Linked DNA regions of Homo sapiens. The protein of the gene in region 2 interacts with the protein of the main gene of each other region in a pairwise test. Each region holds a gene or a part of one and is shown on either strand. Other genes may lie near its edges.

Region 1 (3,754 bases), on a different chromosome or scaffold from region 2:
CTGTACTCCAGGCTGGGTGACAGAGCAAGACCCTACTTCAAAAAAAAAGCCCAGTGAGTAAACACATCTGTATGATCAGTGTTTTCAAATAATGTATAGGGAAATATCGTTTTCACATCTACTTAAAATTGCACTCTGATATTTTTTAGTTTTTTTTGTTGTTGTTTGTTTTTTTGTTTGTTTGTTTTTGAGATGGAGTCTCGCTCTGTCGCCCAGGCTGGAGTGCAGTGGCACGATCTCAGCTCACTGCAAGCTCTGCCTCCCAGGTTCACGCCATTCTCCTGCCTCAGCCTCCCGAATAGCTGGGACTACAGGCGCCCGCCACCATGCCTGGCTAATTTTTTATGTTTTTAGTAGAGACGGGGTTTCACCGTGTTCACCAGTATGGTCTCGATCTCCTGACCTCGTGATCCGCCCGCCTCAGCCTCCCAAAGTGCTGGGATTACAGGCATGAGCCACTGTGCCCAGCTATTTTTTAGTTTTTCTGATGTTATCTTAGTAATTACTCAGCATTCATGCAACAATTTCTTGTATACATTAGCTACTTTACAAATCCTTCCCGTCCAGATAATGCACTAAATAATGCTCATTATTTTTGGTGATTTTTATTGCTGTTCTAATTGTTAGAATGCCAAGACAGCCCCCATTCAGTTTGTGCTCTGGCACATCAGCTGCTTATTGTCAAATATCTGAGTGCTTACTGTGTGCCACACACTGAGGATCCAGGAGTGAGCAAAGTCAACAGGGTCCACCCCTTACAGAGCGTACTTAGACCTCATCACCTTCAAAAGATAAGAAAGTGATGGGGCTGGGAGAGAACTTAGAAAGTTAACTGGAAGGTGACCTAGTGGTCCTTTTGAGGGAAGCTCAACTTCCAGCAAGGCTGTCCCAGTGGTAATAAGCATCAGAAGGTAGTTTGCACCTCATCTAAGTAATTTTCGTCATAGGTTTACAGAAATTAGTGTTTGCCCTCCATGATGGCTCTTAACAGTTGAAATTAATGGAATAAATATAAACTAAAGATCATATATAGAAATCCGTAAAGATCTGACCAGTCACAGTGGCTCACACCTGTAATCCCAGCACTTTGGGAGGCAGAGGTAAGAGCATTGCTTGAGTCCAGGAGTTCTAGACCAGCCTGGGCAACAGAGCAAGATCCTGTCTCTACAGAAAAAAAATTTTCTTTTTTGAGATGGGAGTCTCGCTCTGTTGCCCAGGCTGGAGTGCAGTGGCACGTTCTCACTGCAGCCTCTGCCCCCCAGGTTCAAGTGATTCTCCTGCCTCAGCCTCCCAAGTAGCTGGGATTACAGGCGCTGGCCACCGCCCCTGGCTAATTTTTGTATTTTTAGTAGAGACGGGGTTTCACCATCTTGGCCAGGCTGGTCTTGAACTCCTGACCTTGTGATCACCCACCTTGGCCTCCCAAAGTTCTGGATTACAGGCATGAGCCATTGCGCCTGGCTCAGTAAATTTTTTTTTTTGGAGACGGAGTCTGGCTCTGTCGCCCAGGCTGGAGTGCCATGGCACGATCTTGGCTCACTGCAAGCTCCATCTCCTGGGTTCACGCCATTCTCCTGCCTCAGCCTCCCGAGTAGCTGGGACTACAGGCGCCCGCCACCAAGCCCGGCTAATTTTTAGTATTTTTAGTGGAGACGGGGTTTCACCGTGTTAGCCAGGATGGTCTCAATCTCCTGACCTCGTGATCTGCCCACCTTGGCCTCCCAAAGTGCTGGGATTACAGGCATGAGCCACCGTGCCTGGCCCCGGCTCCCCCAGCTCAGTAAATTTTTAAAAAATTAGTCAGGCCTGGTGGTACGAGCCCGTAGTCCCAGCTACTCGGGAGGCCAAGGTAGAAGGATCACTTGATAGGAGTTTGAGGCTACAGTGAGCTATGATCACAATACTGCACTTCAGCCTGGGCAACAGAGTGAGACCCTGTCTCTAAAAGTTTTTTTTTAAATTTTTTAATTAAAAAATAAAAAGAGGCCAGGAGTGGCTCACGCCTGTGATCCCAGCACTGTGGGAGGCTGAGGTGGGTGGATCACTTGAGGCCAGGAGTTCACCACCAGTCTGGCCAACATTGCAAAAGCTCATCTTTACTAAAAATACAGAAGTTAGCCGGGCGTGGTGGCATGTGCCTGTAGTCGCAGCTACTCGAAAGGCTGAGGCATGAGAATTGCTTGAGCCCGGGAGGCAGAGGTTGCACCCAGCCGAGATCATGCCACTGTACTTCCAGCATGGGTAACTGACTGAGACTCTGTCTCAAAAAATAATAACAATAATAAATTTAAAAAATAAATCTATAAATATCAATTTGCCTTGAATTAGCCAAGTTGAATCTAATAGTAGCAAATTTGGGGAGGTGCAATAGCTTTCATATTGGTATTTTGAAATCTGTTTTGAAATATCAATCGATAAAAACATAATATCAACCAGAAGGAAAGAATACTTCTCTTAATATTCAGTTTTCCAAAAGAAATAGTTTAATCCTTGGAAATAGGGCCAATTAGAGAAAAAAAACAATCTTGGACTCATCAGAATGTCTATCTCAGTAAAGGTATTTTGAAATATCTCTTATAATTATCCTAAATCCTCAAATAAAAGTTTAATTATATGAAGCCATAACTCTTTGGAAGCTTGGGAAAGTGTGTGTAAAAACTAGATGCTGAGCTCTTTGGAGGAGGGGATTAGGACTTTTTATTTCTAGATCCCAAGCTAATACAAAGCTTTAATGTTGAATGAATATTTGCCATGTGTAGTCTTGGAAGTTTAAATTATAAGGTCTTTGTGTTTTACAGCTTTTGGCTGATGCCTGCATTTATGCTCAAAAAAATAGTTCTTGGAAATTTTTCATCTGGCCCGGTGGACCCTATGATGGCTGATGCCATTGATTTCATGGTAGACAGGGTAAGGATCATGACATTGGGTTGGGGACACATTGTATTGGGAATTTTCACATCTACTTGGTTCCAGAAGATAGATCTGTCTCACAAGTATGTGTAAGAGGTATTTGCTAAGCAGAGTAATACATCTGAGCAGATATTATTGCTGGTAAGGGCTTGCCTACATCAGTGCTTCCCACCAGCTATTCATCAAAATCACTTAGGGGAGCTTTCAAAAATACAGATTGTAAGGCCTCACAGCAGATCATCCATCTGGAATCCCTGGGCATGGGATCTGGGAATCTATTTTTACTTCACACTTTTCCTCTACCCACCAGGTAAATCTGATGAACCAGGTCTGTTGGCTTGCATTTAGGAACTGCTGGGCTAGATGATTTCTCAAATCTCTTTTAAGATCCCTTAAAGGTTTATCTTAAAAAAAAAAAAAAAACAAAAACATATATCTGTCACCTTTGAGCAGTAGGAATTGGCTTGCTGCCCATGGGCACCTGGCTGGAGTAGGCAGTGTAGGCTGAGGGCTGTAGAAGGCCGGGTTTCATTGGTTTGTACCCAGGTTTCCAGAATAGAAAAATGCCACAACCTCCTGAGAAGCCCAGTTCATGGTCTCTCACCTAAGTTGTGGTTCCTCACTGATGACTTTTCTGGCCCCACCACAGATGATACCACCTTTATAAGCACAAATGTTGTCTGTGGATTTAATGTAAATGTGAAAAACAAAATTATTTCAAAAACTTTACCTGTGTTTCTTCCTGCAGCTAGAAAGTTTGGGTCAGAGTGAACTGGCTTCAAGACTTACCTTGAATTGTCAAAATTCTTATGTGGAACCTCATAAAATTCGGGACATACCTGTA
Region 2 (3,754 bases):
GAGGCTGAGGCAGGAAAATCGCTTGAACCGAGGAGGCGGAGGTTGCAGTGAGCCAAGATTGTGCCACTGCACTCCAGTGTAAGTGACAGAGTGAGACTCCATCTCAAAAACCAAAAACAAAATTGAAGTTGTAATTAATAGAGTTGTCAGCTAATACATCATTAAAACTGCATTTTATGATAGAAAACTCAAAAGGAGTTCAGAGAATTGCATGGCTATATTTATCTATTCATATGACAACAGTTTCTTAGCACTTACATGTGTAAAAACAAAACATAGAAATAAAATTAACACTGAATCTTGATTCATTCTAGCAATAAGCAATATTTATTCATGGGTACATGAACCAATAGAAGAGAAAAATCAAAGTTTTAATAGGGCTTTATGGTTAATTTCAGTTTAGAAACATTTTTGTTGCAGAGGAGTATGAGATGGTGATCAATAAAATAATGAGTTTTTTAACTCATTTTTAATTTTAAAAAGCTCTGGCTACTTATTTGTATAAAAATACATTACTATAAAATTCTGTGGGGAAAGTGAAATGAAGTTGAGGAAAAATTGAGTTCCAGGGAAAAAATTTACAGCTATAAAAAAAATTTTTATATTTTAATTAGACTGTCCCAGTATTTATATTTCATTGGATATATTTAATAGTGACAGGTAGTTTAAAAAGCTGATATTTATAATATGCTGGAAATTACCTTTTGTAACTATTTAAATTATGAAAAGTTTTATAGACTTAAATGCATGAGGAAGTTCTTTTTTTTTTTTTAATTCAGAAGTGTGTGAACAAAAGAGCTAGAAGATGACTTGTGGTGATCAGAGACAGCTTCAAAAACAAGGGTGACATTTGGTCTGAGTTTGATGTATTTAAGAAAGTTGCCAGGAAAATAAGGGGATAAATGCCATCAAGTCAAAAATAAAGATTCCAGAGGGAAAAAGACTTGGCTTTTGTGGCGGGGGATGGGAGGGTGGGAGGCGTTGATAATTAAATTTAGATTGGATATGTTGGGGATATCTGGGGGACTTAATGAATTTGGAGCTCAGTTTACTTTGTGGTAAAATGAGGTGGAATGCTTATTCTTTAGAGGGGGGAGGAGAGGTCAGGAGACTGCAACAGACTGTAAGAGAATGTTATTAATAAAAATCGTGGAGATAGGGAGTTTAGATTTGGAAGAGACTTTAGCCATCACCTACATCAATTTTCTCTTTTTTACAGAGAACTTATCTGGCCCCCATATCCTTAAGGGTTTTGCTAGTGGAGAAGCTAAATTTGAAGCAGACGCATGGTCTTCTGTCTCTTGATAGAATTCTCAGAACGTATGATCGTATTTTAGAAGAGAACAGTTGAGGAAGTGATTTAAGGAAGAGGAAGTAGGTAGTGGCGTCATGTCACTGTGTCATTGCAGTGTGACAACTGGAACATTATTTAAGTAATTTAACCTAATAGTATCTTCAAAATGGAATTTCTGTTTTGATATTAATAACTTTTTTCATTTTCACCTAGGCTGAGTTGCCTAGTCACGTATTTTCCTTATCGCATCTGTGGGTCAATCTAACCATGCAAATATTTTTGTTTTGTATCATTTTATAGGATTTAATGTTTATCTGTTAACCCTACTTTCATATATTAGCCCTCCACATATAAACATGCACACATAAGGCAGAACATTAATATTTTGTGAGACTTTGACTAATAGCCATTATTCTGGAAGTTTTTCTTTTATAACTTCTTTCCATTTTTTGATGACTTAAAAAAATTTTTTTTACCATTAAAGAGTAGTCGTGTATAAGATAAAATTCATGAACATCTTGTTTATATGAAACATTCTCCAAGCCAAGTAGGAAATGTAAGATTATATTCCAAAATTCTCATATAACCTTTCCTCCTTTTTTTCCTCAGGTGTTTGGATTTATAGCAAGTTTTATGTTCCTACTTGACTTTATCACTATGCTGTATGAAAAACGACAGGAGTCCCAGCTGAGAAAACCTGAAAATACCACTAGGGCTGAAGCCCTCACTGAGCCACTTAATGCCTAAAGACTCTGGGGAGCAGATGTTACCTAAGGTAGTGACCCTGCATTGTGGTGCCTGAGCCCTGGCAGAAGCTCTTGTAAAATTTGTTAATTGTTTAAACCACTTCTTTTGGAGAGCAAGGGGAAGGTCAAGAAGGCAGTTTTATCAATATTGTGTCAGTCACCACAAAGTAGGCCAGATAAGTTAAAAAAAATTTTTTTTTAAATAATAATTGAAACTTATCTCAAATGGAGATTTTGGTGGGAGGAGGAGAAAACAATTGTTTTTAAATCACACAGCTCAACGGTTGATAAATGATTCTGTCATTCTGTTACAGGTCATTCTTTTACTAGGCTTAGCTTCCAAATTATGCTTTATAGCTGTATAAACATCGTGATTATATTCATCTACTTAGAAATTGTTTTATTTTTAAATTAATTTGCTTAGCTGTTTGTTTTGATGCTTAGATTATGTTCTGTTAATGGGAATTTAACATATTTAAGAAACCAATATTTAAAATGTTGGTCTAGGTTTTTTTCCTTAACATATATTACCAGGCTTTACTGTATTTCACTCAGCCTTAAATGTTATAATATTTTTGGATAACGGTTATTAATTCTTTGAGACCTTCGTATAGCCTATAAAATGTATGGGAGATGTTGGTATTTTATGTGTATAAAAGCAACAATATCAGCAACTTCGTGTTTATACTGCACCTTGGTTGTTGATGTCAAGTAAAAAAAAGATTGTTTTGTAACACATAAAAAAATGGAAGAAACTGATACCACACCTAAGGACCAAAGATAAGAAAGACTTTTTGCCCAAGACAGTGAAAGTAATTATAAAAACAAGCTTTGACCACTTACCAAGTATCTGAAGAGATGAGTTCATACTATGATTTAGAAAGTGGTTCAATTCCCCTGTTGGCATATGATTATTTTTACTAAAATTAATACAGCTCTGTGGGTCTTCCTTAGTGTTTTCTTTGAAGCCAATCTGTTTTTTTTAGGACACCAGCCTTTGGTTTTTCATCTGTTCGAGATGCCTCTTCTCTGTCTCCTTATCAGATAGAAATGGAGTCATGTGCTGCTGCTTCATCTAGCAGAGGTTGGCCTCTGGCTCTGACACTTTTTGTCAGTTGTCTTTAGGTGGTCCTGAATCTTGGGCCCTTTTGATTGTGAATACTGTGTAGCAGGATCTTGAGAGTCCTTGTTCTTACATAGGCATTGCTCTAGTTTGTCTTTGGCAAAAAAAAAAAAAAAAAAAAGTAAATATCCAGGGAACCCTGCCCAGACTAATACTGTTGGTGGCATAAGAGAATCAAGCCATTCTCAAGAGATAACTTCATAACCAGAATTGTCTGTTGGCTAGCAGCTGTCACAGATAGGCAGGGCACTTGGGATATGACCTTTCTGTCCAGGTGATTCACAGACTAGACCTTTCTTATCCTCCTCCTAGAGTTTTGACTTGGGACTCTAGTGTTAAGATGATGAGCCCGTGCATCAGGTCCTTCTGCACTTTGGTGGAAGTCTCCCAGGGTAGGTTTCCTATTTGAAACAGTGGAATCATGTTTCCAGTGATAAAGTTTAATGACCTCATCCTTTTTTTTTTTTCTCATCTGCCATTTGTGTGTCTTAGATGGGTTTTAATTGCATGAATGTGGCTAATGTGGTTCTCAGAAATTGGTCAGTATGGCCCAACATAGCTTCTGCTCTGTCTTACTGACTCAATACCTTT

Evidence for each region. Proteins that work in one complex are often made in the same cells at the same time.
Region 1: the proteins of CMTM6 (region 2) and SPG21 interact in binary tests that used the Homo sapiens proteins (3 or more experiments, as listed by UniProt).

Annotation. Positions count from the first base shown.
Region 1 is NC_000015.10:64,969,267-64,973,020, reverse strand, and holds part of SPG21 (maspardin), read left to right. Parts: intron 1-2,798; coding exon 2,799-2,907; intron 2,908-3,658; coding exon 3,659-3,754. UniProt on the Homo sapiens protein: May play a role as a negative regulatory factor in CD4-dependent T-cell activation.
Region 2 is NC_000003.12:32,482,247-32,486,000, reverse strand, and holds part of CMTM6 (CKLF-like MARVEL transmembrane domain-containing protein 6), read left to right. Parts: intron 1-1,903; coding exon 1,904-2,041; 3' UTR 2,042-3,754. UniProt on the Homo sapiens protein: Master regulator of recycling and plasma membrane expression of PD-L1/CD274, an immune inhibitory ligand critical for immune tolerance to self and antitumor immunity.